Homo sapiens: one gene and its partners. The protein of the gene in region 1 binds, or shares a complex with, the protein of each later gene. Links are inferred from orthologs where the notes say so. Each region holds a gene or a part of one and is shown in the gene's direction. Other genes may lie near its edges.

Region 1 (7,357 bases):
AGTGTCTCTTCTCTTCTCTAGGTTAACAGTAATCCTGTCGCTATACACCTTTGACCCCATCCCTTTTTGTCTGTTTTTTTTTTGGTGTTTTTTTTTTTTTTTTTAAGACAGAGTCTTGCTCTGTTGCCCAGGCTGGGGTGCACTGGCACAGTCTCGGCTCACTGCAACCTCCACCTCCTGGGTTCAAGACATTCTCCTGCCTCAGCGTCCAGAGTAGCTGGGACTACAGGTGTGCGCCACTACGCCCGGCTAATTTTTTGTATTTTTAGTAGAGATGGGGTCTCACTATGTTGGCCAGGCTAGTCTCAAATTCTTTTTTTTTTTTTTTTTGAGATGGAATCTCACTCTGTCACCCAGGCTGGAGTACAGTGGCTCGATCTCAGCTCACAGCAACCTCTGCCTCCTGGGTTTAAGTGATTCTTCTGCCTCAGCCTCCCAAGTAGCTGGGCCTACAGGCACGCACCACCATGCCCAGCTAATTTTTGTATTTTTAGTAGAGACAGGGTGTTACCATATTGGCCAGGCTGGTCTCGAACTCCTGACCTCATGATCCACCCGCCTCGGCCTGCCAAAGTGCTGGGATTACAGACGTGAGCCACCGCACCCGGCTGCCTGTTTTTATTTTATGGATTATTATCTCTGCTCCTATGTCTTCAAGTCTTCCCTTCTGAAGCCATACTTCCCAAAAGAGCAGTCAGCATTCCCTCTCCACTTCCTCAACTTCCACTCTTCACTCTTGGAGTTCGATCTGGCTTCCTCCCCTCTCTATTAAGATGGCCTTTGTTGGCCATCAAATTCTAAATCAGTGGCGCATCTTACTCGACCTCTCCAGAGCATTGACGATTCTGACCACACCCTCCTTCTCAAAAGTCTGTATTCCTATGTGCCTCTGATGCCACTTTCACAGCATGTGGTTCATGAATGTCACCTATAGATTCTTGAGAATTTCTTGAAGCTTCCTTTGTGGCCCAGTAATCAATTTCTGTAAATGTTCCAAGCATGTTTGAAAAGAATAGATATACCCAAGTTCTTTTTCTAAAATACAAACCTTCTCTCATTTCTTCCTGGTCTTCCATCACTTCTATGGTCTTCAAGTGAAAGACCAACCCCCTCAGTCTTGAATCTTTCTTTTCTTTCTACCTTTTTTTCTTGACGCTTTGATCTTGAAATGCTGGTGTTCCCAGCGTTTTCTATTCTTTTATCTCTCCACACACCAGGGAAGCACATGCTTCACAAAAGGGGACGGTCTCTCCCAAGTTCTGAACAAGTGCTGCCATGGGGGAAGGCTGGCCCACTGTCGTCAGACTTCCCCACTTTTCCAGAGCAGTCAGCTACAGTAGGGTTTTATGTGAAATGTCCCAAGTTTATTTATTTATTTTTGAGACAGAGTCTGGCTCTGTCACACAGGCTGGAGTGCAGTGATGCAATCTCAGCTCACTGCAACCTCTTCCTCCTTGGCTCAAGCTGTCCTCCCACCTCAGCCTCTTGAGTAGCTGGGACCACAGGTGTTCACCACCATGCCTGGCTAATTTTTGCGTGTGTGTGTGTGTGTGTGTGTGTGTGCGCGCGCGCGTATATATTTTTTTTGTAGAGATGGGGGCCTCACCATGTTGGCCATGGCTGATCTCAAACTTCTGAGCTCAAGCCATCCTCCCAGCTGGGCCTCCCAAAGTGTTGGAATTACAGGAATGAGCCATCATGCCCAGTCAAAGATTGAAAACCCCAACTTTAAATATTGATAATGAATAGAAAATTTCACAAAACCATGTAGGGCAAACAAAACACAAATATTACTCCTTAGGGCTTTATTTCCCCTCTTATTTGACTACCTATTAGGCAGTTTATAAAGAACTTATTAGTGGTGTTAGTTCACACTTATTGAGGGCTTACAATGTGCCAGAGACACTCTTCTAAGTAGTTTACGTTTACTCTTCCTTTAATCTTCAGAATAACATTATCAACAAAGTGTTATTATTAAACCTGCTTTATAGATGAGCAAACTGAAGCTGAAAACTTGAGCTCAGTCATCCCTTAGTATCTGTGAGGGATTGGTACCTTAGTCCCCATGGATACCAAAATTCTCGATGCTCAAGTCCCTTATGTAAAATCAAAACCACCTTTGTAAAAAGCATAACTGAGAAAATTATGATAGTGAAAGAGATCTGGCCTGACTCCATCTTGCTTCTAACTTCCAAGCTGTCCTTGATCATTCCTGGACATAGGTGGAATTAATGTTGGAAAGAACTTAGTTTATAGTTTAACTTTGAAACAAAGGCAATAATAGCCCTTTCCCAAAACAAATCCCCTCCTTGCCTAGGAACGGGTCTGCCTTTGTAGACTAACAAATTAGCTAAAAGATTAGAAATTATGGTTTAGGAGGTCACGCAAGCTGGAGGCTACAAGATTCTGACCCTCCCCAGATTGCTTCCGGGAGTAACATCACTGTTCTAAAACCTAAAATCAGTGCTTGAGATATTTTGCAGAACCCGTGTTCTAATGCACCAGCTGACGCCACCCAGCCCTGTAATCTGGCTAATCTGGTCCTATGGTCCTAACCCAGGATCTGACTCAGTGCAAGAGGACAGCTTTGACTCCTTTCCTCTCTGATCCAACCTATCAACACTCTCTAATCCCCAGCACCTCCAGCCACCAAATTATCCTTGAAAACCCTGAATTTCCAGGGAGACTGATTTGAGTAATAATAAAACTGTGGTCTCCTGTTCAGCCAGCTCTGTGTGAATTAAACTTTCTCTATTGCAATTCCCCTGTCTTGATAAATTGGTTCTGTCTAGGAAGCAGGCAAGGAGAACCATTGGGTGCTTACAAAATGCGAGAATACTTGCATTTAACCTACACAAATCCTCCAGTATATTGAAAATCATCTTTAAATTACTTACAATACTTAATACAATGTAAATGCTATATAAGTAATTGCTATGCTGTATTGCTTTCGGAATCTGTATTATTTTTATTGTTGAACTGTTATTTTTTACTGTTTTCCCCCACAAATATTAACCACCCACAGTTGCTTCAATCCGTAGATGGGGAACCTGTAAACATGGACAGCTGACTGTACTTTGTCCTATGTCTCAGAGACACTGAGTTTAAGGCCCAGGATTCCATGTTGACCATCCAGCTCCAAAGCTGAAGCTTTTAATCACCACACACCACTGCTTTCCCACTTAGCAGATGAAACTGAAGCCCAGAGAGGTTAAGAGGTTGTCCAAGATCACAGGGGTGGTGAGTGACCAAGCCTGGATTTGATCTATCCTCACAGAGACAGATATTTGCAGGTACTGCTGTTCTATATTAGTTACCTGTTTCCCTTGCTAGGCTGCATCCCTAGCTCTCAGACCAGGGATAGAATTCAAACGTTTGGAAAATTAACGCCTTGAAGACTCAAAGCAGTCCATTCACTTCCACGAGTAATTTCACTTGCTTTCTCACAATCCCTAGGTAAGATAACAGTTAACATATAATCAGCACTCCCATGTGACACTTTTCAATGGCCATGCTAAGCACCTGATATAGGTGTTATTATCTCTTGTAAATCTCACCAACACTATTTTGCAAGAACTAATATCCTCATTTAATGGAAGAGGAAACTGAGGCTCAGTGACTTGCCCAAGCGCCTGCCAACTAGTAAGTGGCAGAGCCAGGATTCTAGATCAGGCTCTATGACCACAGAGTCCACATTTTTCTTTTCTTTTTTTTTGAGCTCTGTCACCCAGGCTCGAGTGCTGTGGTACGATCTGGCTCACTGCAACCTCTGCCTCTCGGGTTCAAGTGATTCTCCTGCCTCAGCCTCCCGGGTAGCTGGGATTACAGGCACACACCACCACGCCCGGCTACTTTTTGTATTTTTAGTAGGGACGGGGGTTTCACCATGTTGGCCAAGCTGGTCTCGAACTCCTGACCTCAAGTGATCGGCCCGCCTTGGTCTCCCAAAGTGCTGGGATTACTTACAGGCGTGAGCCACCGCGACCGGACCAGAGTCCACATTTTTGACGTCGAGGCCACACTCAGTTCCACAGATGGGGAAACTGAGGCCCGGGGCAGGGCACTACATTGTGCCAGCGGAATGGTGGCCATTGAGGGAAGCCCAGGCTGCACGCCAATTCTTCCTCCTTGGTCAGGGAAGTCACTGAGGTGCAGGAGGCGGAGGGCGACAAGTGGAAGCCCCTTCCCATTATTAAGGATCGAGAGCGGGCGTAATTTGGGATCTAACCCACGAGGCGGAACCACCAGGGCAATGGCGCAAACGGAGAACCGGAAGTGCGTCACTCAACGGACGGGCGAATAAGCCGCAGGCCACCAATGGGAACGCCGCGTTCGCGTTCGCCCCGCCTCAAAGGAAGAAGAGTCCACCTTGCGACCGTATCCGCTAGCGCGGCCTGGGATGCGCTTGGGCTCCCTGGTGGGTAACGTGGGGAGCTAGGGGTTGGAGGGGAAAGAAGAGGGACTTCAAGGAAGGCGAGGGGAGGACGGAAGGTGGGGTGGGCGAGACAGGCAGTGGGGTCCGGCCCCGGGGTCGGTCCCCGTGGGCTGTGGAACTCGGGGACTGGGGTCTTGGGGTTTCCCCCTTCTTGATGGGGAAACTGAGGCCCAGACAGGGGCCGCAGAAAACAGCGGACTGGGATGTCCTCCCGCAACACACACGCAGACATCTAAAAATCTTACTATTTAGTGAAAAATATTTTTAATCGTAATTACGATTTAACAGGTAAAGATACTTTTCATTGTAACAGGTGAAAAAGCAAAATATAAAATTCGATTCAAACTGTGATTACATCTATGGAAAATACAGCCTTTGCCGACCACCCTCTTTGTCCCGCCGCCCTCCGTGCTCCCCTCTGTTTTGTGTACGGAGTTTCTTACTTTGTACAAGTCCGCAGCCGCTTATGTTACAGCCCCGAGGCCAGATGCGTTTAAAATCGAGGAGTTCTCGGAGTTTGGAAAGGTAAAGTCCCTATGTTCTATGTTAGGTTTCACCCTCAGAGGGGGCTGGAGCAGCGGCTTGTAATCAAATACACGACCCTTTCCACAGCTAAAGTTATGAAGATACGCATATATTACATTGACCTGGTCGCGGTGGCCCACGGCTATAATTCCAGCACTTTGGGAAGCTGAGGGGGGCGGATCACCTGAGGTTCGGAGTTCGAAACCAGCCTGGCTAATATGGTGAAACCCTGTCTCTACTAAAAATACAAAAAATTAGCCGGGCGTGGTGGTGCGTGCCTGTAATCCCAGCTACTCGGGAGGCTGAGACGGAAGGCTGAGGCAGGAGAATCGCTTGAACCCGGGAGGCGGAGGTTGCAGTGAATCAAGATCGTGCCACTTCACTCCAGCTTGGGCAACAAGAGCGAAACTCCGTCTCAAAAAAAAAAATGCATATATTTACACTGTTGGGATAAATAACCATAAATAGCCTCACCTTAAGTCAGGTCAAGTTTTCCAACTTAAACAAGTTTTGGTATTCAGACTTTTTTTTTTTTTTCCCCTGCATCCGATCATCCACTAGTATTCATACCTTTTTAGATTTGAGGGTTGCAGATGAGGGACCTGGATTGTAGTTGTTCTGTTCACTCACTTTTCTCACTCTCGCTGGATAGAGAGTGTCCTTGAAAACAGGAACTGTGCTGTTGTATGGTCACGTCTATCTCTGCCACCAACTCTTGTGTGTCACCTTGTGCCCTCTTAGTCTCAGTTTCCTCATCTGTAAGATGGGGTCAGTGACCCTTTGCTCATAAGGTTGTTCTGGTTTGGGTTAAATGAGGTCGGGCATGTGAAGCACTAGAATTGTGTTAGCACCCGCACGAATGGTATGACTGAGATTTACTTATTCCACAAACATTTCTATTTTAAAATTATTAAATTTAAATAAATTGATTTAATTAATGCATTTAATTAATTTAATAATAAATTTAAACGTATAGATGTATTTCTTAAAATGTGGGTGATAGGAATTTTAAAGATTTATATAATGCTTCAAAAGCCTTCGAAAAGGTTTTTTTAATTGGTTTATCTGTATATATGAACTCTTGAAACTTATGGCTAAAACACTAGGATTTATCTGCAAGGTTGCAGAGAGATAATTCTGCCTTAAATTGGCTAAAACAAAAACAAAACCAGCCAACCTATATTATACATGGGATTAAAACCAATTTTTCTCCCATTTTTTTTCTCCTTTTTTCTTTTGCTGCCCACATTATGCCTTATTTTATGAGCCCCAGTTTTCTGGGCTTAGTTAAAAAAAATTCAGTTCTAAACATTGAATTTAGGGAGTTTTTGTTCTTGAATAAAAAGGCATATACTTAGAAAAAAAATCTGTTTATCCGGGAAAATATATTGAAATCATGCTGCTGAGCCTCTATTTTCTTTGATGTTTTGGTTCTGTATTATTTTATCATAACTTTTTAGCATTTAAAAATTTACTGATGTACATTTAAAGCCAATAAACTGTTTTAATTAATTTTTTTAAAAAAAGTAATTTTTTTTTTCTTTTTGTGACAGAGTCTCGCCCTGTCGCCCAGGCTAGAGTGCAGTGACGCGATCTTGGCTCACTGCAACCTCCACCTCCTGGGTTCAAGCGATTCTCCTGCCTTAGCCTTCTGAGTAGCTGGGATTACAGGCGTGCACCACCACGCCTGGCTGATTTTTGTATAAAATAAAATTATTTAAGTAGGTAATACATGTCTATGCTAATCCCACCATTCTCCCTACAGTCTCTTCTCATAGAGACAAGGGACATAATATGCATAAACAAGCTTATGGTTGTCTTTCTTCCACTCCTACTTTTCCCACTCCTTTTCCACCAAATTATAGCATTCAATCCTATCCTGTTCTCATTCTCATTTACATTTATTTTGGCTGTTATTTAACATATTCACATTATTTTGTTGTTGTTGTTGTTGTTGAGAGTGGATCTTGCTATGTTGCCCAGGCTGGTCTTAAACTCCTGGCCTCAAGCAGTCCTCCCGCCTTGACCTCCCAAAGTATTGAGATTACAGGTGTGAATCACCATGCCCAGCCCATCACATTTAAAAACATTGTATGTAACATACCTATACAATTGTGTGGAAGTGTAAGTTTGAAGAACAAAAATAAAATGAACACTCATGTACCTGCCACCAAGTTAAGAAATAGACATTTTCAGATTGCCAGACCCTCCACTGAATCCTTTCTTCCCTCCTCAAAGATAACCACCGCCCTGAATATTGTGTTACTTGTTGCCTTGTTTTGCTTTGTAGTTTTTACCATGTATGTGTGTATTTCTAATGAATGAATGTATGCTTTTGCTGAGTTTTCGATTTTATGTAATAGGATCCTAAAATATATTTTGTGTGACTTGCTTGTT
Region 2 (7,672 bases), on another chromosome or scaffold:
TTCTAATGTTAGTTCATCTGATCCCAAAGCCCTTACTTTTTCAAGGACACCATGTCTATGTTTGCTCTGAATCAGTATACAGTTAAAAGCCCACTCTCTGGAGGCAGATTGGCTGTGTTCAGATCTCACACCTACCACTTACTCGCTATAGAGCCTCAAAACTTAATAATCTTCTCCTGTGACAGTTTATTTGTGAGAAGAGAAACATAATAAATGCACATGCCTGATAGGTTTGTTGTGGGGATTAAATGAAGTCATACCTGTAAACCACCTGGAATAAGGTCTGACCCACCATTCACTTTGTATAGTAGTCCCCCCTTGTCTGTGGAGGATGTGTTCCAAGACCCTCAGTGGATACCTGAAATCGTGGACAGCACCAAACCCTAAATCCACAATGTTTTTCCCTATGCATAGATACATACTGTATTAGTCAGGGTTCTCTAGAGGGACAGAATTAATAGAATAGATGTATATATGAAAGGGAGTTTACTAGAGTATTGACTCACATGATCACAAGGTGAAGCCCCACAATAGGCCATCTGCAAGCTGAGGAGCAAGGAAGCCAGTCTGAGTTCCAAAACCTCAAAAGTAGGGAATCCAATAGTGCAGCCTTCAGTCTGTGGCTGAAGACCCTTGAACCCCTGGCAAACCACTAGTGTAAGTCCAAGAATCCAAAAGCTGAAGAACTTGGAGTCTGACTTTCAAGGGAAGGAGGCATCCAGCATGAGAGAAAGATGAAGACCAGAAGACTCAGCAAGTCAAGTCCTTCCACGTTCTTCTGCCTGCTTTTATTCTAGCCGCACTGGCAGCTGATTAGATGGTGCCCACCCAGATTGAACGTGGGTCTGCCTCTCCTAGTCCACTTACTGAAATGTTAATCTCCTTTGGCAACACCCTCACTGACACACCCAGGAACAATACTTTGCTTCCTTCAATCAAGTTGACACTCCACATTAATCATCACACGAACCTATGATAAAATTTAATTTACGCCAGGAGCGGTGGCTCACACCTGTAATCCTAACACTTTGGGAGGCTGAGGTGGATGGATCACTTGAGGTCAGGAGTTCGAGACCAGCCTGGCTAACATGGTGAAACCCCATCTCTATTAAAAATACAAAAAAAGCCAGACGTGGTGGTACACACCTGTAATCCTAGCTACTCGGGAGGCTGAGATGTGAGGATCTCTTGAACCCAGGAGGCGGAGGTTGCAGTGAGCCAAGATCGTGACACTGCACTCCAGCCTGGGCGACAGAGCGCAACTCCATCTCAAAAAAAAAAAAAAAAAGTTTAATTTATAAATTAGTCATAATAGAGATTAACAATAATTGATGAGAAAAATGAAATCTTAAGCCCTCCAGCTGACTGAACAGACCCCCTCTTGGCCAAGGGGACCCCGAATAACCTTGGAAACCCTCACCCGCTCTAAATGCCATTAGGCTTTCTTCCCTAAGAGCTAAACAGAAATCAGCCCTTTCAAAAGACTCCACTGCTGGTATAAACCAACCACCTGATGCTGCCCCTCCCTTTTGCAGTTTTGGCACAATTGACCAGCAGTTCTTCCTGGTAAAAGACCACCAACCATGGAGTAGTTCTGGCCAGTCTATGGAAGACATGCAGTCAGGGTTTTCATGTCCTCTACTTCACCTTTTGATGTCAGAGGGCTGAAAACTCCTACCCTGGATCATGCTAACACTGCCAATTTTGGAATATGGGTCCCAGGGAGAGACATGAAGTGCAATTGCGCATATGCACATTTCTCCTTGCATAAATGTTCATGACTCCTCCTATAGCTTATTAAATATGTATATTTGGCCACCCCATTCTGCATAGATTCCTGCTCCCTTTGCCCTCCCTTGAAGTGTCTGTTTCTGGCTTCTAGCATGAGGTTGTCTTCCTAGCCTGTTGGAATGGCCGCCCCGCAGACTGCAACCCTTTATGAGAAATAAAGCTCTTTCCAAATTTATGAACCTCGTCATCCTTCAGTTGACACTAACAATAAAGTAGAACAAATATAGTGTAATAAGTTATATTGTGGTTTCTCTTTGAAAATATCCTAATATTTTCGGACTGTGGTTGACTGCAGGTAACTGAAACCACAGAAAGTAAAACTGCAGACATGGAGATGGAGCAGCAACTACTATAATCATTGGCTGTTGTCGGTTATATTTATTGTTACTAATGTTAGTATTGTTATCACCACAGTTTCTCCCCAGACATCCATGGCTTCCAGTATCAATCCAAGGTGGAATGTGGGTCTGGATGACTTCTCCATGCAGGGCCTAAAACTTCATTCTAATACTCTTATTTTATGTCTGCATTTTCTCACCTGCATTCTTCTGGAAAGAGTGTAGAGAGATGTTTTGAGACTTAAAAACTGGTATCTCTTCTCCTCTATCTTGAGTAATGACAGTCTGCTATCTAGGTAAGCGTGCTGCTGGAGGACACTGCTGATTTTCACAGTGACAGGGGTAGTCTGACTGGTGGGCTGCTTGGTAACGTACATGAATACCTTAGCAAGAAAGAGCACTGAAAAACCAGCCCAACTGTTGACAATAGCTTTTATCTAATTTTCCACTTTCCCCTTATATCTCGGTCACTGAACTTTTTTGACTCAAGGCACTGTAGCAGGACGAGCCGCAGACAAAATCTCTCAGACACCGAGTTGCACAAGGAAGGGCTTTATTCAGCTGGGAGCATCGGCAAGCTACTGCCTTAAAATCCGAGCTCCCCAAATGCACAATTTCTGTCCCTTTAAAGAGCTCACAACACTAAAGATTTTACATGAAAGGGTCGTGATTGATCAGAGCAAGCAGGCGGTATGTGACAGGGGCTACATGCACCGGTGGTCAGAGAGAAACAGAACAGGGCAGTTCTGTTCTTTATACAATGTTCTTCTATACAATGTCTGGAATCTATGAATAACATCGGTTTCTAAGTTATGAGTTGATTTTTAACTACTGGGTTTAGGCCAGGCAGGCCCAGGCCTGGTTTTGGGCCTGGCGCTGGGCTGCCTGTATTTGGTTTTACTTCCTTGTTGTTTTTTCTTAAAACAGGTACTGAGTATAAAACAATATAAAACAATATGAGACGGTCTCTCTATTCCCTCAATACAACATCCACATCCTGCAGTAGGGACCTTTTGCAGAATTCTAGATGGCAGGAAGCTTCTATGAACCTAAGTCCAGATTTTAATTTGCAAGGAAACTGAAGCAGATGAATTTTCTCATTGTAAAAAAATGAATGCCTTGATAATATATTTGTTTTTCATAGTAGGCCTTTGTCATTAAAATTGATGCCTGAGGATATAGTTGCATCTTGTGTGGAACAGTAAGTTATTACTCATTGCATACCAGATTTTAGCATACTTGCATTAGTTCATGGAATATGATTTTACATTTACTATTGCAGTTCCAGTGCCATTATCAGATTGCATTTTCCTACTGAATTACAAACAAAAGTGTTATGCTACTAACAATTAACAAAATTTTAATAAGGTTGTGTTTGATGCTATTACTCAGATAATGTGTTCTAAATTGCTTTCCTTTGAATATATTTGCATTAAAGAGGAACTCAATTTGGTTCTTTGAAGAGTTTATCCACTTTCTGGGTAGCTTTAAAAAGACACAGGGAAATTCAGTTTCTTCTTTGCAAGTAAATAGAGAAGAAACAAATTTGCTAAGATCTGTAGAAGTCATGGCAGCAGACTGCTGATGGTTTGAGTTAATGAAATGACTCATTTTGGCTACTTGAGTTGCACAATTAAAATATACAGTAGAGACTGTATATCACATCATAGATGAGAGATAAATCCCCCAGTGTTCTCTTTTTTTTCCTCAAAGCTAATATATTATGAATTAAGAAATTTAAGAGCTCCACATTATTGCAATTCTTGATCAGTGATGCCCCAAATTAAGTAGTAATCTCTTGAGAGTGCACGTTTGTTTGCAGCATTCCTCTTACCCATTTCTGCTAAAATTGTGGTTGTGACGAAAGCAGTTGTTTTCCAAAAGATAAACCCATGTGACCAAGCTAAAACATTTACCTAATACTGACACGTTTTTTGTGGTCTTCTCATAGTTGTCTAGCTAAAGGAGTTTAATGCAGAGAATATAAATACGGAAATAGTGAAACTGAAGTCCTGCTTGCGCAGAAAGCCTGCAGCCGACTTTGGTTTTTAACAGACTCCACGGGGCATTAGAGAAAGTAACTGGGGGCAGTGGGATGGAGGGTATGAAATTGGGTGGAGGGACGAAAACTAAGAGCCCTCTGGGTCTTTTATGTCCTTCTACATTTTGTGTAGAAATAAATGTTTTTACTTTACTTCCACGGTCGGCCCTTCCTCTTCACCTTTTTTTTTTCTCACACGTTCATCCTCTGAATTCTTTCCGTTTACAAATGCTCCCGATTTAGAAACTCATAATACTGTCTGTAAAACTTGCCTGAGCCTGTGTGGTCTGAATTTAGCGACACACTTGTTTAGGAGTTTCGGTTCTCGCTCTCTGTTTGCATGGTTTGGTAACAACACTTCACTATACTAAAAATCATCGCCCGGACCTGCAGGGCTGCACGGAAAACGCTGTTCCTTTTGGTACCCGCCGCAGCCGCGCAGGCGCACCGCCCAGCCGCCCTGACGCAAGGCGCAGGCTTCATGACGCAGCACGCAGTCTCAGCCGACACTGCGCGCGCCTCCAGGCACCGGCGTTAGCGGGTCGCCGACCCGCAATCCCCGCCGCGGCTGCTTGCCTACCGGAGTGTGCGCCGGCACCTGCCGCCGGAGACATGTTGCAAAAACCGAGGAACCGGGGCCGCTCTGGCGGCCAGGCCGAGAGGGACAGAGACTGGAGCCATAGCGGAAACCCCGGGGCTTCGCGGGCCGGGGAAGACGCCCGGGTTCTCAGAGACGGCTTTGCCGAGGAGGCCCCGAGCACGTCCCGCGGGCCGGGCGGCTCGCAGGGGTCGCAGGGCCCCTCGCCTCAGGGCGCCCGCCGGGCCCAGGCCGCCCCCGCCGTGGGGCCCAGGAGCCAGAAGCAGCTGGAGCTGAAAGTGTCCGAGCTGGTGCAGTTCTTGCTGATTAAAGACCAGAAGAAGATTCCGATCAAGCGGGCCGACATACTGAAGCACGTCATCGGGGACTACAAGGACATCTTCCCCGACCTCTTCAAACGGGCCGCCGAGCGCCTCCAGTACGTCTTCGGGTATAAGCTGGTGGAACTTGAACCCAAGAGCAACACTTACATCCTCATCAACACCCTGGAGCCTGTGGAGGAGGATGCCGAGATGAGGGGTGACCAAGGCACGCCCACTACGGGCCTCCTGATGATCGTCTTAGGGCTCATCTTTATGAAGGGCAACACCATCAAGGAAACTGAAGCCTGGGACTTTCTGCGGCGCTTAGGGGTCTACCCCACCAAGAAGCATTTAATTTTCGGAGATCCAAAGAAACTCATTACTGAGGACTTTGTGCGACAGCGTTACCTGGAATACCGGCGGATACCCCACACCGACCCCGTCGACTACGAATTCCAGTGGGGCCCGCGAACCAACCTGGAAACCAGCAAGATGAAAGTTCTTAAGTTTGTGGCCAAGGTCCATAATCAAGACCCCAAGGACTGGCCAGCGCAGTACTGTGAGGCTTTGGCAGATGAGGAGAACAGGGCCAGACCTCAGCCTAGTGGCCCAGCTCCATCCTCTTGAAAGGTGGATTCAGAGGGACCCCCGGGACAAGGGTCTGAGACCCAAAGGCACAGTTTAGAGGATTGGGGGAAGGGAGAACGAACCCAGGGAGCATATTGCTGTAAACGCTTCAATGTGTGTAGCTTTAGGATGTGTTTGCAAAGTTTTGTTTTTTTAATGTTGTGTTATTTTGCTCCAGATTTTCATCTATAAACAAAGGAGCATTTGTTTTGATTTTACTCTTTTTGGTATAAAAAATTTTGCTAGCTTAGTAAAACGAATTGGAAAACTTGACTATGATCTGGAACAGATAATGCAAGAAGGAACACATAAGTAAGTTGCTTTGGTGCCAAGAAAATAAAAAAGCTATTATCAGGTCTCCTAACTACCCCAGTTTGTAAGGAAAAATAAAAGTTTTTATAAAATTAAAAAAAATAATTGCCTATATCCTTATTATGTTAACCTATTTTATTTTTCTATATTTCGTACATATATAAGTATTATTCATGGTTCCAAGCAATGAGTGTAATGTATTTTCTCCCAATAGTAATTGTTTATATTCATAATTATTCAGCTCTGCTGCTAAACACGTAGTTCCACTTCGTTTTTTTCTTCTTGCTACTGTAGTTATTACAATAAATACTGTATTTTTGAAGCACTTAAGCATTGTGTGTTTTTTAAATCGTGGGTCATGAGAGAATTTCATGACTGGAAATCAACATCTTAAAGTTTTTGCTACATATTAAGGTCAATGCTGTTTTGTAGAAGTTGTTTCACTTTTGTGTGAAACAAAATCAGGATCATGAGGTGAAATATATTTCTCACTGTGGATCTCAAAAAGGCTTATAAAACAATAGCGTAACCATTAACCATGCCTGTTTGGGAATCGGACTGTCTGGGTTGAGATCCTGGCCCCACCATAACTAGTATATGAATTTACATAGGTTCCTTAGTTTGTATGCAGATGTTTCTTGACCTGTAAAATGGTTTTAGTCCGTGATGTGGAGAATTTTATTTGTTATTCTTTAATGTTTTTATTTTTTATTCTCCTTGGTCTGGAGCTGCCACTTTTTAAATATAACTTTTCTTTATCTTTTTTTCCAAATCATTCCTAGGAGAGCAATTCCTGGTTCAAAAGATAGTCCTCTAGTCTCACTCTATTGTATGGGGAAATATAACGTGTATGGTGAGTGTGCCCCACATAGAACATAAGAGCAGGACATAAGATCTACCTCCTAGGGAGTTAGGTATAGGGAAAAGGGTATGGGTCTTGGGGCTGTCTGGCAAACTGAATTTGAATTACGGCTCATGCTAACTTGTCAGCATGGTGGTTGTGGGGGTAGGTTTTAAGCTCTCTGAATCTCAATTTATCTGTAAAATGAGAAAAATAATAGCTATATAATAGTTTTATGCACTAAATGAACTAGAAGAGTTCATAGTCCCATTGTGTTCCTCCATTACGTGTAGCAGATGCTGTTTTTAATGCAGAGATTCAACACGTTTTATTCAGTGGGCAAATAAGTTAATTGTTTTAGGGGGAGGTGCTGCAAATTAACCTTGAAATAAGGCAAATATTTTTAACTCGGGGAAAAAAGTGAACTTCATCAACACTGGACGGAATGTCATTTAAAAGAGTCTATAGTGAGTATGGAGGAATGTGATAGGTTACTGGGTTTTATTTCATTCTGTTGAATTGGGATTTGCATTTGTTTCATCAGTGGAATATGTTTGGCCCTTACAGGCATTTCTTCTTGATCTGCATTTTATTTCAGTGTATAAACTCCTTCCTGCCTCCTGGTCCCCTTACCTCCCTGACTCAGCTTTCTCCTCCTCATGCCCTCTGATACTCGCATTCTCACCTGTATAATAAAAATTATTACCCAGCAGTCACCACCAGTTATATCTGAGGCAAAATTCCCCCCGCTTTTCTCAGAGGTGTTAGCAATTTACCATCGATAATCTTGTTTCAAATTTTAAAATATGAAACATCAGAGGC
Region 3 (7,385 bases), on another chromosome or scaffold:
TTAGAAGGCCAAGGTAGGAGGAATGCTTGAGCTCAAGAGTTCAAGACCAGTCTGGGCAACAATAGCGAGACCTTGTCTCTACTAAAAATCAAAAGAATATCAGTCAGGTATGGTGGTGCGAGCCTGTAGTCCCAGTGACAAGGGAGGCTGAGGTGGGAGGATTGCTTGAGCCCTGGAGGTTGAGGCTGCAGTGAGCCATGATCGTGCCACTGCACTCTTGCCTGGGTGACAATGAGACCCTCTCTCAAAAAAAAAAAAAAAAAAAAATTTTCTCACATGTCAAGTATAGGAGATTCTTGCTATTAAGAATAGTTCATATCTGAAAAATGCTAGAGTGATTACAAAATACAGAAAAATGTTTCATAAAAAGGAGAAGAAAAAGTTTTGATTACAAATGTATCTTGAAATTTGTGAAAATGAGCTTTATATATTAGGCTGTGATAAGTGCCGTGAAGAAAAAACATAATAAAGGATGGGGCATATGCTAGTTTCCATAGAGCACCTCGGGCAGAAGTCAGAAGGAAATGAGAGAGCAAGCAGTATGGATATCTGGGTATGGTCAGCAGCTTTCTAAAGTGGTCCCTAATGATCTCTGCCTCCTGGTATTCATGTTCTATGTAGGTTCCTTCCCTTGAGTATAAGCTGACTTACTGACTCCCTCCTAAAGAGGAGAATAGGGCCAGGTGTGGTGACTCACTCCTGTAATTCCAGCACTTTGAGAGGCTGAGGCACATGGATCACCTGAGGTTAGGAGAGCCGGGATCACCCCGGCTCTACTAAAAATACAAAAATTAGCCAGGCATGGTGGCAAAAACCTGTAATCCCAGCTACTCGGGAGGCTGAGGCAGGAGAATTGCTTAAACCCAGGAGGCGGAGGTTGCAGTGAACCGAGATTGCACCACTGCACTCCAGCCTGGGTGACAGAGTGAGACTTCATCTCAAAAAAAAAAAAGGGGGAGGGGGGGAAGGAAATAGGATAGAAACAAAAGATACAGTGCACTTCTGAGATTAGATTTCGAAAAGACTAACTTCTGGCTTGGGCACCCTCTGTAGCTTGCTAGTCCAGGGGAAGCAACATATCATGGTGTGAGAGAGCCCTGGGGAGAAGCCCATATGACAAGGAACTGAGGCTTGCCAAAAACCACCTGAGTGAACTTGAAAGTAGATCCCTTATAATCCCAGTCCAGCCTTCAGATAAGACCATAGCTCCTTGTTCCCAGCCTGACTGCAATGTTCTAAAAGCCCCAGAGCCAAAGGCAGCCAGCTATGCCCTACCCTCCGGACCATAGATGCTATAAAGCTTATTGTCTTAAGCCACTGGGTTCTGGCATAGTTTATTATGCAGCAATAGATAATGATCCTAATAATGGCATCCCAAGCAGAGGTTACAAGTAAGTGCAAAGGCCCCAGGGCAGGAATGTGCTAGATGGCTAGCAAGGTGGCTAAAGTGGCTGGAGCAGAGTCAGCTAGGGGCGGAAACAGAAGAAGTAGACTGGATTGGATCTGAGAGCCAAGAAGCCACTACAGCTGTCTAGAACTCCCATGAAGGTACCCTGTAATACACATTAAGGCATACATTATTAACAAGTTCTTTTAGTTTCCTCTGTGATACTTGCTTGTTAAACCACACTGATCTCTAACAGGCTGAATTTCAGATAATTTCATTTCATTTTCTGCATGGATATGGTCTGGCTTGGGAAAGCAGAGAGGGAAAGGGGAAATAATGGACAGTGGGCAAAACAGTCACATACTAAAGCCCTCTGAAGACCACCAAACTAACCCAGAAGGTCTAAGTAGGATGAAACTTTACACCAGGAGTGTCCAATCTTTTGGCTTCCCTGGGCAATATTGGAAGAAGAATTGTCTTGAGCCACACATAAAATACACTAACACCAAAAATAGCTGATGACCTTAAAAAAAATCGCAAAAAAATCTCATAATGTTTTAAGCAAGTTTACAAATTTGTATTGGGGCACATTCAAAGCCATTCTGGGCCGCATGTGGCCTGCAGGCCTCAGGCTACACAAGCTTGCTCTAGACTCATGAAGAGGAGGACAAGCTATGATTAACAGGTCCAATGGCTACCCGATTTGGGATACCATGACAGGGCAACAATGTGGCCCTGGGAAAAACAACTTAAAGCAAAGTAACATTACTTGCCCTTTACTCTACTCTCTCCCAACATACAGAAGGACAGACAGACTCAGCACCTGCATGCACACATTCGGGGAAGCTTCAGTCTGGGATAACGACAGAGATCAAGACTTTCGTGTGTCAATCTCTTGTTTTAATCCTTAGTCCCTTACTCAAGAATTACGCTGTAGACAACTTTAAAAGAACATGAGGAGGATAATAATAACCAAATATGTTCGGCAATAGTAAAACAAATATTATGGGTCTTTATTACCTAGGTAAATCACCTTTCTAAAATTCTATATATAAACTTTATATTAAATTTTTAATGCAAAAGCATATGAGTTATATTTAATATACTTTTACTGAAATGAACTCACTGCTTGTAATCTGTTTTGCCCCATGAAGGGCACTTGTGTTTTCTATTTCTAATAATGCAAGCATCTCCTGCTAAGTTTTTGAAGATGGAAGAAGTTAAAACAAGATTAGCTGAAAGAAGGAAATCACTTAGTTACATTTTATGTACTAGACCTCCTAACCCGGACTAGTTATATTTTCCATGTAACAAATGGAATTTCCATAATTTGTACAAATATAATTTGGCTAGAGTATTTGGTAAATAGCCCCCTCGTTGGCTGAAGGACTAGTCCTGAAGAACAGAATCTAAGAACCATCATTAAAAATGCCTAATCAAGTTGCAGCTAAGAGGTAGGTGGATGGCTTTACAAAGTGTTAAGACTCAGCTAAGTCTTAAAAAACCACTTTAGAATTAGGTCCAAATAAACACTGTAGAAGAAGCTATGTTAAATTATCCTTTCAGAGGTTCTCTTGGTGCTAGGGATCAAGAACACTTGAAGATCAGTTTTCTCAATACAGGCTATATTATTATTGGCATGAAATCCAGAGATCCCACTATATTTTCTTATTTTCTTTTACAAGTGCCGGTAACTTCATTTTTAATAATTTGGCGTGGAACTGTGATTTTCAGTTTGGGAAGTAATCCTAATCAAAAGACATGCTTTCAAGAATAAGGCATGACATCCTTACACCAATTACCCTGAGTACAGAATAATATTTCTTAAGGAAATCGAATTGTCGTGGACAAACAGTTTACCCTCTTCAGAGGACAAAAGAAGGCAGGTCTATTTTTAGCCTTTCGCAAAACCTCAGTTCCATAAAGGAAGCACTGGTCTCCACAAATCCATTATCACAAACAAAATATAACGGTTGCTGATCAAGATAAATGCAAGCTGCATATATTTTCCAGAAAAGTTCTGAAATGAGGCTGAACCTGAAATCCTGGGAAAGGCAGGTGAAGGACAATTAGAGAAGGTGTCCCTTGTAGTGCACAAAGACAGTAAAACTTCGCCCTCACTACGCCTCACCTATGTTTGAGGGAGCTCCATGCGCTTGCAATCAGGAGACCCAGTTTTATGGCTCTGTGACTTTTTTTCTTTCTCCTGTCCGATCATAATCCTGATTCCGATCCCAGGAATCAGGGCCCTGGGAACTTTTTTTTTTTCCCCCAAATGCAAAGGATTTTGACATCAGTATGTCACAGGTGAAGGCATTAAGGCGCGGCGAGCAGCAATGACTTGCCCAAACTCACAGCCCATGGCATAACTAGAATGCAAATCCACGTCTGTCAGCCTGTAAAAGTCCTCACTACTAGCCTTTCAGTTTTCTCAAAAGCAAAGAGAAATAACGACGACATCCATACAGCAGTGTTCCCGGAAACTTGGAAGGATGAGATTCGGACCAAGCAGCTGAACGGTGCTTCCTAAAGCGAGGAAGGGGTGTGCAAAATGATTTCCCCCTAAGCGGAGACGAAGAGCTGGATTACAGCCCCCGCCCCAGAAAGCCCCTAAGCCCTCCATCCCGAGTCCCCCATCCAGGCTGCACGCGACTCTGCAGACCTCCCCGTGGCCAGCGCGGCCCAGCGGGGAGGGGAAGGGGGCCATGCAAAAATGGGGCGCGCTCACTCCATCCCCACTCACCTGTCAGCCGGGCCGCGCCACGGCGCACGCGCAGGGCCGGAGGTCGCGCGCGGAGCCGGCACCCAGTTTCCACCCCTCCCTCAAGGCGGCGGTCCTCTTCTATCCGCAGTCCCGGACCTGGAGCGGGTCAGACCCCGACTTCCGCCCCTGACTCCCCAGGCGGTCACATGACCGAAGCGGCTGGGAGCAGGGAGGGGCATCATGTGACCACTCGCCGGCGACGGCTGATGACGCAAGAGCCCGCTCTCACTTTTCAGCGGCAGGCGAAGGGGGCTGAGGAAAGGAGGTGGGTCTAGGCAGGGGAAATTGGGGTGCCACCAGACGGAGACAGCTTGGACTACCAGGTAGGGAAGAAGCGGGGGACGGCAATGGGGAGGGTGGCAGGAGTTTCGCCACCCTCAGGGACACTCCACGGGGACTCCGAGCCGGGGGTCCGTCTACCCGGATTATGGTTGTGGAACTTTTCACGCCACGGTAGTGAGTCTGGGACAGTTTACCCTCCTGTCCGAGACGCCATCTCTCCATCCTTTCGCCTCAAGTGTGTAGGGGCAAGATTACGAATTTTTGATCCAAATAGATTTTGTTTGAACTGACTTTAAAAGTAAGGCCACGGGAAGGTCGTTTGAATAAACTCTCTGGACCTCAATTTCCTCTTCAGTTATGTAGATTGCAGTGAGAATTAGCGATAAGGAGAATAAAGTGCCGGGACACCAGTTTATGGCATTCTGTAGGTGACCGAGAAATGATGATGTCTGTTGTTATTTTTGTAACTGGCCAAATCTTTATTGGTCCCCTATTTTGTGTGAGGAATTGCTTTATATGCAATAGAATATGTCAGGGTTCTAGTTTAAGGAGGTGTCAGTTTAAAGAAGCTGCAGACATGTGAGCAAATAGTTGTGATGAGTTTCATAATAGGAGTGTGTTGTGTACATGTGCATGTGATAGGGATAATGGTAGCATGAGGGAGGGAAAAGCAATTGTATGAGAAGGATTCAGAGAGAAGGGATTATCCTTGCATGTTGAAAAAGGAGAGGCAGCTCTGGCTGACTTGTACAAGGCTCCCATGGATTTAAAGGAAGTCAACATATTGTCTATAAATAACATGCAGAGAAAAAACTCAGGAAATGCACAACTTGTTCTAAACTTTCTTGGAGATCATAGGTACCGGGAAGAAAAAGATCAGTGTTATTACCTGGGGAGGGATCCAAGAGAGATTGATTTAAACCAGTTATTCTCAACTGATGCACTATTGACATTTTAGGCCAGATAATTTTTTGCTGTGGGGTCAGGGTGAGGGCTGTCCTGTGTTTTGTAGGATGCTTAAGAGCATCCCTGGCCTCTGCCCGCTAGATGCCAACCACAAAGTCTACAGATACTGCTAAATGTCCCCTTGCGAGAGGGGTAAAATCCTTCTTGGTTGAGAACCACTTAAACCAAGCCATGAAAGATGGTATCTTAGTCAATGTGGGCTTCTGTAACGGAAATGCCATAAACTAGGTAGCTTATGAACAACAGAAATTTATTTCTCACAGTTCCGGGGCCTGTTTCCTGGTTCATAGGTGGCTTCTTGCTGTGTCCTCACATGGTGGAATGGCAAAGCAGCTATCTGGAGCATCTTTTAAAAGGGCACTAATCTTATTCATGAAAGTGGGCCTCATCACCTCCCAAGAGGCCCCACCTCCTAATACCATCACCTTGGAAGTTAGGATTTCAACATATACATTTTGGGTGACACAAACATTCAGACTTTAGCATATGGGTAAGATGTGGGCAGATAGAAAACTGAAGAGAGGCCCTGGCACAGTGGCTTATGCCTGTAATCCCAGCACTTTGGGAGGCCAAGGCGGGCGGATCACTTGAGGTCGGGTGTTTGAGACCAGCCTGGTCAACATAGCGAAACCCTCTCTCTACTAAAAATACAATAAATAAATAAATAAATAAATAAGTAAATAAATAACATAATTGGTGTGTCCTGGCACACACCTGTAATCCCAGCTACTCGGGAGGCTGAGGCAGGAGAATCCCTTGAACCCAGGAAGCAGAGGTTGAGGTGAGCCGAGATCATGCCACTGCACTCCAGTTTGGGCGACAGAGCGAAACTCTGTCTCAAAAAATAAATAAATAAATAGAAAGAAAACTGAAGAGAAGGTTTTCTCATGGTGGGAGCAGGATGAGGAAAAGTCCTCTTTTTCCTTTTTGGTGACAGCGTCTCACTCTTATCGTCCAGGCTAGAATGCAGTAGCATGATCATAGCTCACTGCAGCCTTGGACTCCTGGACCCAAGGAGTCCTCCCACCTCAGCCTTCCGAGGGTCTAGGACAATAGGTGCAAGCCACTATGTCTGTGTAAGTTTAAATTTTTTTTTTTTTTGTAGAGTTGGGGTCTTGCTGTGTTGCCCAGGCTGGTCTTAAACTCCTGGCCTCAAGCAATCTTCCTGCCTTGCCCTTTCAAAGTGCTGGGATTATAGGCATGAGCCACCACACCCAGCCTGAACAAAGTCTGGAGCTGAGATTAAGAATATTGGGTATGAAGGGGAGAAGGAAACAGGAGAGCTATGAATCTGACTGAAGCAGACAGTTAATTTATTCATTTATTGACTATTTTCAGAGCACTTGCTGTTTGTGAAGCACTGCTAACATCTTGCAAGATAGTCACTAACAAAGTGGAGTGACTATAATTATAATTATATCAAAGAAGGTGCTGTTAGAGTCAGAGAAAGGAGTTGTCTTTGACTTGTACTTAGCTGTATTTATTGGGAGAGATTGAGAAAAGTATGTCTGTTCCATCTTTCTGCACCATCCATTGCCTTTGCTTTTCAATTCAATCTCAGTCTTAATCTTTTCCCTACTCCAGAATTACAGAAGAGCATGATCGTGTTTTCCTTGGTCCTCTGCAAAAGTGAAGTTTCACTAAAGTAATGTGAGTTTTGCATTCAAACAAATAGTGACAGCTACTGTTTGGTAGATACTTTCCATTTATACTGGATTGCATTAATCTTCATAGATACTGTGTCTTTGTTCAAGCTACCATAACAAAATACCATAGACTGGGTGGCTTAAACAACAGAAATTTATTTCTTACAGTTCTGGAGGCCAGAAGTTCAAGGTGAGGTTGCCAGCATAGTTGGATTCTGGTGAGGACTTTCTTCTTGGCTTGTAGATGGCTGCCCTTTTTATGTGTCTTCACATGGTAGGGAGAGAGAGAGAGAGCAGTCCCTGGCGTCTCTTCCTTTTCTTTTCTTTTCTCTTTTTTTTG
Region 4 (7,022 bases), on another chromosome or scaffold:
ACTTTGCAGGCCGGATGCAAAGAGAAGAAAGAGAAGGTAGCTGGAAGTGCAGAGGTTGGTGAGATGCTGTTTATTTTAATGAGGGGATTTTGAGTTTTAGGCATGAGGTAGAGAAAGATGCGCTTAGAGAATTAGCAAGGAAATAAGATGGGTAGTTAGAGAATGTAAATGGCCTGGAAGAGAGTAGTGAGTGAACCAAGTCAAATGGAGTTGGGAGTGGAGGAAGACACTTGGAGGCTGAAGGAATAACATGTGCAAATACTTCAGAGCAATAAGGAATTATAGTCACAAAACTGAAAGAAGTACATTATAGGTAGAATTTAGAGGTCTAAGGAGAGAATAGGGAAAGGAGATAAAAAGTAGAAAAAGATGAAACTCGGCTGTGATGGGTTTTTCCTTAATTTTTCTTTTTTAACAAGTGACATCAGATTTACAATTCTACCAGCATCACTTGGTGATTGATTGGATGATGGAGTGGTGGTTTGGGTGGAGTCAAAAGAGATGAAAGAACCAAAGAGGATGCAAAACTAATGCCTAGGTTTCTGATTTGGTCAATGGCATGAATGATAATACCATTCACTAAGAGACCACAAGAGTGGTTTTGGATGGGAAAGATGGTGGATTTCGTTTTAAATGTGTTAAGTTTAAGATGACTGTTATGGGACATTCAAATAGCGTTATTGAGGTGACCATTGCATATAGAGGTCATCTGGACTGCTTTCAGCATGTAGATAGTATGCAAAGACTTGGAGAAAAAAAGGAATCATTGAGGCCATAGAGAATACATGAGATACCTCGTGAAGTATATGGAATGATAAGAGGGTGGGTCTTTACCAATAGCTCTTTCAGAGGGAGCTCAGAGGAAAGGAAACTCATGATAAGGGAATTCCCAATAAATACATCGTAGAATCAGAAGATTGATTTTAAACAGTGCAGACACTTGATCTGGGTAGCTAAAGGCAAGAAAAATCCCCCGCCTACCCCCGCCAAAAAAAAAAAAATTGCAGAGGCTTTGTTTTTGGCAACTGTCCCTATTTGTAATATCGATGCGTATTTTATAGGCCAGAAATTCTCATGCTTTTCCCTGTTCTGTTTTCTTAAATACCAGTTTCATCGTTTTAGTATAACATTTACACAGAGATTTCACAACAGGAAATCCAAGTGGGGCTTCATGTGTTGAGCGTAAGAAGTTCCATGTCAGGTAATTTCCTACATGTCTGAAGTTCCCAAACTAGTTTTATTGTAACCATAATAAAGGGCTCTTTTGAAACCCAGCTGCTAGCAGAACAAAACAGCTAAAAAGATAAAGTAGTAGATGCTGTGTAGAGGTGTGGGATTAGCAAACCTGCCAGAAAATACGTCTTTGCCACCTGTATTTTTATTACCACCCGACATTTCAAAATCATTAATTTCTTAAAATATTAATGTGTGTGCTTGGTTATTTATATACTTAGCAGATGAATAGCAGGCTAAGCATTTATTCATGAGGAATTAGTTGGCAGCTACCTGAGAGCTAACTGAAATGCTGTGGACAAAGGACACTTTATGGGTTCAAATTCAGAGTATTCAAAGGCGAGTTAAAAGAATGTCTGAGTCAGAGTTTGCTTCACATTTTGTCATAACTGTCCCTAGCAACTAATAAAGATTAGATGCTAACTATAATTAGAGTGCTAGTCAGCTTTCAACTTTTGTTTTGTAGGGCAGTGTCTCTCTATGATGCCTAGGCTGGCTTTGACCTCCTAGGCTCAAGTAGTACCCTGGCCTCAGGCTCCCTGGTAGCTGGGACTATAGGCACATACCATGGTGCCTGGCTTGGAAAATAATTTTTAAAAGTTAATAAAATGAAACCTTTGGGTTGAGATATATCTTCAGTTTTGTAATTAAAAATCTGCTTAGATTGTTTGAAATATTAAAATATGAATAACCATTAAGCATTATAATTTAAAAGAAATATGAATGTAAAATTCACAGATTCAAGGTAAGCCGTGGCGTCTCCTATAAAATTTGTTTTAAAGTTATTTTGTGTAGTATCTTTGATATAGTGTCCAGTGTTTTGTAATTATTAAAAAAGAACAAGGTATCAAACTTCACTTTCTTCAGCAGACTTTTGAAAAAAGTATATGAAATTATATTCTTTAGTTATGCATTACTGCCTTTTCATTTCTTCTATTGGTATTCTTTCTAAAGTTGTTTATTAAAAACCTATAAAAAAACATTAAATTTGTAAGGTTAGCTAGTTTTTAAAGGAATTTGAGGAAGCTCATAGATAATGTAAAGCAAGGAAAAGTGGTTTTGTATCTCTCCTTAATAATTTCATCTCTTTATAATTCAGAACATATGATATTTGTGAAGTATCTCCTGGACCCCACTTGAATATGATCGTTGGAGCCAATGGAACAGGGAAGTCGAGCATTGTGTGTGCCATTTGCCTTGGTTTAGCTGGAAAACCTGCTTTCATGGGACGAGCAGATAAGGTGAGTTAATATAATTACTTTTTAAGAAATTTCAAACCTATTAATTGCTTTTAGTAACATCAATTTCTACACCTCAGTTCCTTGGGTATAGCAAACTTAATAGTGCATGAATACAAGGAATAAATTTGGCAGGTAGAGAAGCTAGAAGGAGATTTTCATTTCTAGAAGTATTTTGGATCATAATACTAGAGGATTCTTCAAGTCTCTTACACCTAAAATGCTAGAAATAATGTAATATGTCTTTTTTTTTAAATGCATCACTTGGCTTGTGGAACAGTGAAGTAAACTTACAAAGGGCAGAAACAAAATCCAGTCATATGTTGCTTAATGATGGGAATATATTCTGAGAAAATGCATCATTAGACAATTTTGTCATTGTGTGAACATAATAGAGAATATTTACACCTAGATGGGTTAGCCTACTATCCACTTAGGCTATATGGTGTAGCCTATTGCTCCTAGACTACACTCCTGTAGAGCATGTTACTGTACTGAATACTGTGGACAATTGTAACACAATGGCCTACACTGTACTTATGTAAACATCTCTAAATATAGAAAAGGTACAGTAAAAATACAGTGTAAAAGATAAAAATGGTACACCTGCGTAGGGCACTTAACCATATTCATGAGAGTGGGGGGCGGAAAAATACTGCCCGAACAATCCAGAGGGAGTCTTGAGAAAGGAGGAGGAGGAGGAGATAAGAAACAGATACAAAAAATGAGATCATTAAAAATGACAAAATATTGGCTGGGTGCGGTAGCTCATGCCTGTAATCCCAGCACTTTGGGAGGCCATGATCAGGAGTTCCAGACCAGCCTGGTCAACATGGTGAAACCCCGTCTCTACTAAAACTGCAAAAATTAGCCAGGCATGGTGGCGGGTGCCTGTAATCCCAGCTACTAGGGAGGCTGAAGCAGGAGAATTGCTTGAATCCAGGAGGCGGAGGTTATAGTGAGCCAAGATCGCACCATTGCACTCCAGCCTGGGCAACAAGAGTGAGACTCTGTCTCAAGAAAAATAAATAAAATAAAAATCACAAAATAAGATGGTAGAAATATGTGCAGATATAATCACAATGATTATAAATGATCTAAACTCTAAACTCTCATTAAATTATAAAGTCTGTTAGAATGGAGAAATGAAACAATGTTTAGTTCTCTTTTGTTTTTAATAAGCATATCTAAAATAAAGTGCTACAGAAAAGTTGAGAGTGAAAGGATGAAAAAAAATACATGCCAGGCAAATATGCAAAAGAAAGTAGATGTAGCTGCATTAATACTAGGAAAAACAGACTTTAGAGCAAAAAGTATTTTATAGATAATAGTGGTCATTAAACACTGACGAAAGTTTTAATTCACTGGAAGATAATTCGATTCCCAACTCAAATTCACATTATAATCTAGCTCCAAAATATATAGGCAAAATCTGCAGAATGCTAACAAGCAGTTAACATATCCATAATCATACTGGGAGAGCTATCAATAATAGTAGACCAGTCAGATAAAAAAATTAGACTACAAAAGATTTGAACAATGAAGTTAAGCTTGAACTAATGGACATATTATAAAAAGTGCACTCAACAACTGGAGAGTATGCATTCTTTTCAAGCACAAGTTAACATTTCTAAAAGTTAATTGTATACTGAGTCATAAAGCAAGTATCAAAAAATTTCAAAAAATGGACACCACGTAGACCATATCCTATTTCTATTAAGATAGAAATAATAAAAAAAAAATTAAAAGTTAATGGATGGTTACAAAATGGAAGCAAATTCCCCTTAAGATTATAAATTATTTAAAATGTGTGTGTGTGTGTTTAGTGCTATATGGAAGACATTTATCAGGTAGAAGATACTTTTCTCTGTTAATAACTAGCCTTGTGACCTTGAGCAATTATCTGGACTTCAGTTTTTCTTCATTTCAAAGATGAGAGAGTTGGAACAGATAGCATCCAAGGACCAACTCAGATTTTTATGAATATTGATATATAGTTTTTTAATTGTCAGATCATTTAATCCCTATCTCTTTGTAATCGTCTGTTGGATTGTACTCCAGGGGCTGTACAGTAGGACTGAATTGGCTATAACAATTTTTACTAACTTTCTCATGTTGATTTTTGTCATGAAAACACATCTCATCCTTGAGTGATAGGATTTTTAAGGGAGGCTGTGGAGTGCAGTGTTTCCTAGATGACAGATTGCAGCCCTTTGGGTACACAGATGTATTTATGGGATGCCCAAGTTCTCAGCAAGAATATTTAATGTATTTTTGTTTAAATGCTAATATAAAAATTTAACAAAAACATACTCTACACCATCTGTATGGATACTTTATAATAAGAACTGCCTCCTGATTTTTGTTTCCTCCTCATTGGTACCAAGTCTTTTAATTCTTGCAAGCTAATGAGCAGATGTCATTCCTACATGGATGTCCTTGGTTTTCCTGTGAGGAAACAGAGAGGTTAAGTAACTGTCCAATGTTTAACAACTTGTATGTGGTGGAGTTGAGATTTGAACCTAGATAGTAGATGTTAAAACCTGTACTTTTAAGCATTAGGCTGTACTTGGTGGTTACAAGATAAGGCTTTTTTTTTTTTTTTTCTCCCATCTTTCTGGGACTCAGCTTTATTGTCTATAAAATGAATGTATACTTCAAGGTTGCTTATGAGTATTAAATGAGAAAAATACATGTTTAGTGCTTAGCACAACAGTATATAGTAAATGCTTGATAAATGTTAGCTGTTGTCATCACTGTCATTATCACTATTAAAAAGATTACTATTTGTGAGGTATATTTTCTACCTTTTTTAATATTTATCACTTATTTATAGCCTGATTTAAGATCCAGTCTGATTTTTTTAGGCTCAGACTTTGTTTTCGGACTTAGACTCATAAGCATATAGAAACTAGCACAGATATGTCTGCTTTATCATGTAAATTTCAATTATATTGCTCCTTTTAGAACGATGCTTGGTGGCAATTATATCATTAACAGGATAGGTAATATTAGCGTGGTTGTTAATATTTAACCTGCGCGACTGTAGGAAGTCTTCAATGGTAATAAGAAGCTTTGAGTGCTTAGTGGTTATACTATAGGACCTGTTTTCCCACAGGCATTTTCTCTTCTGTCTGGGTGTTTAATATAGTGGACAAGTACACAGGCTCTGGAGCCAAGATTTCCTGGGTTCAGATCGTTTTTCTGGCACTTACTGGCTTTGTCACGAGGTTGGTAAGAGGCTATGGAGTGCATAGGAGTTCGATAAATCTTACCTAATATTATTATTGTTGTTATTTGTGGGAGGGAACAATGGAGGAACCCAGATCTGGGAGAGATACCTTAGAAAGTGACAGGAGCGAACATACAAGTGGTACCTGAAAAAAATCTTGATTTGACAAATAATAATGACTGCTAAATCTCTGATTGTTAACCTGGGAATGTCACTACACAGCTCACTTTTTCTTTTTTATGTCTTAGGTTGGGTTTTTTGTGAAGAGAGGATGTTCTAGAGGCATGGTTGAAATTGAATTGTAAGTGTTAAAAGTGCTAAAACTCCTTTTTCCTATAAAATTCTTAGTTTATATTCATGTTTTCCTGATGATTAGAAAAGAGTATTAATATAGTATTATGGCATAAATATTGGAAATAATATTTAAAGAATACTTAATCCAGATAAGTAAGGGGTTTAAAAAATATATTTTAAAAACTTAAATTGTAGGCTAGCCATGGTGGCTCATGCCTGTAATCTGAGCACTTTGGGGAGGCCGAGGTGGGCAGATCACCTGAGATCAGGAGTTGGAGACCAGCCTGACCAACATGAGGAAGCCCCGTCTCTACTAAAAATAGAAAAATTATCCAGGCATGGTGGCACATGCCTGTAATCCCAGCTACTGGGGAGTCTGAGGCAGGAGAATTGCTGGAACCTGGGAGGCAAAGGTTGCAGTGAGCCGAGATGGCGCCACTGCACTCCAGCCTGGGAGACAGAGCTAGACTCTGCCCATGCCCCCTGCCCCCCCCAAAAAAAAAACTTGTGAGAATTTTATTTTAAAAAATTATCAAGGAAATGATAAGTTTATAGCAGGTAATGAAATAGAACTATACTACTATTAAGTAGTCATGATGAAGTTGCAATATTTTTCACAAATTTAAAGTATCTGGGTTTTTTTTTTTTTGCTGATCTTGAAAGTAATACTTGCTTGTCTTTAAAAAACGCAAACAATGTAGAAGTGTATAATGTTGAAAATAAAAGCCTTCTTGCCATCATTCCTAATTCTATAAATAACTACTGCTAATAGTTTGATGAATCTCATGTATGACAAGGACTTGGTACTTCTGTCACCATTTTTTATTTTCTCCCTTATGACACCAATAATTCATCATAGTATTCTTTTCCCTTGAGCTTGGATATTCTCAATTGGCCATTCTTGGCAGCTATTTTTGATAGACTAGAGTTGATGTTTATGATGAAACCAGTTGACCATCCTTGGTATATATAATTTTAATCCTTTACACATAAATATGCACATTATTTAGGTGATTTTTAGAGAC

Evidence for each region.
Region 2: the proteins of NSMCE1 (region 1) and NSMCE3 are in contact, whole or in part, in a crystal structure (PDB 7DG2), measured with the Xenopus laevis proteins. The link is inferred for Homo sapiens from one-to-one orthologs. Residues at the interface, in NP_001083134.1 of Xenopus laevis: Ile5, Glu7, Gln10, Arg11, Leu13, Gln14, Ala15, Met17, Ser18, His19, Leu30, His33, Leu37, His38, Leu54, His57, Leu58, Pro60, Leu61, Phe62, Met63, Val84, Asn86, Ile88, Thr89, Met91, Ala92, Ser93, Asp94, Gln149; in XP_018121157.1 of Xenopus laevis: Gly57, Glu58, Val60, Gln61, Tyr62, Leu64, Ile65, Lys66, Gln68, Lys69, Val82, Thr100, Gln102, Gln103, Val104, Phe105, Gly106, Phe107, Asn123, Leu125, Gln126, Arg127, Val128, Gly130, Asp131, Gly132, Met133, Arg134, Asp136, Glu137.
Region 3: NSMCE1 (region 1) and NSMCE2 share a complex: the UniProt entries of both Homo sapiens proteins name them as parts of the SMC5-SMC6 complex.
Region 4: NSMCE1 (region 1) and SMC5 share a complex: the UniProt entries of both Homo sapiens proteins name them as parts of the SMC5-SMC6 complex.

Annotation. Positions count from the first base shown.
Region 1 is NC_000016.10:27,265,766-27,273,122, reverse strand, and holds the start of NSMCE1 (non-structural maintenance of chromosomes element 1 homolog), read left to right. Parts: upstream 1-4,350; 5' UTR 4,351-4,417; intron 4,418-4,748; exon of another isoform or gene 4,749-4,960; intron 4,961-7,357. UniProt on the Homo sapiens protein: RING-type zinc finger-containing E3 ubiquitin ligase that assembles with melanoma antigen protein (MAGE) to catalyze the direct transfer of ubiquitin from E2 ubiquitin-conjugating enzyme to a specific substrate.
Region 2 is NC_000015.10:29,266,816-29,274,487, reverse strand, and holds the start of NSMCE3 (non-structural maintenance of chromosomes element 3 homolog), read left to right. Parts: upstream 1-4,665; 5' UTR 4,666-4,782; coding exon 4,783-5,697; 3' UTR 5,698-7,672. UniProt on the Homo sapiens protein: Component of the SMC5-SMC6 complex, a complex involved in repair of DNA double-strand breaks by homologous recombination. The complex may promote sister chromatid homologous recombination by recruiting the SMC1-SMC3 cohesin complex to double-strand breaks.
Region 3 is NC_000008.11:125,087,485-125,094,869, forward strand, and holds the start of NSMCE2 (E3 SUMO-protein ligase NSE2), read left to right. Parts: upstream 1-4,375; 5' UTR 4,376-4,474; intron 4,475-6,983; exon of another isoform or gene 6,984-7,049; intron 7,050-7,385. UniProt on the Homo sapiens protein: E3 SUMO-protein ligase component of the SMC5-SMC6 complex, a complex involved in DNA double-strand break repair by homologous recombination. Is not be required for the stability of the complex.
Region 4 is NC_000009.12:70,261,972-70,268,993, forward strand, and holds part of SMC5 (structural maintenance of chromosomes protein 5), read left to right. Parts: intron 1-2,332; coding exon 2,333-2,474; intron 2,475-5,951; coding exon 5,952-6,004; intron 6,005-6,647; exon of another isoform or gene 6,648-7,022. UniProt on the Homo sapiens protein: Core component of the SMC5-SMC6 complex, a complex involved in repair of DNA double-strand breaks by homologous recombination.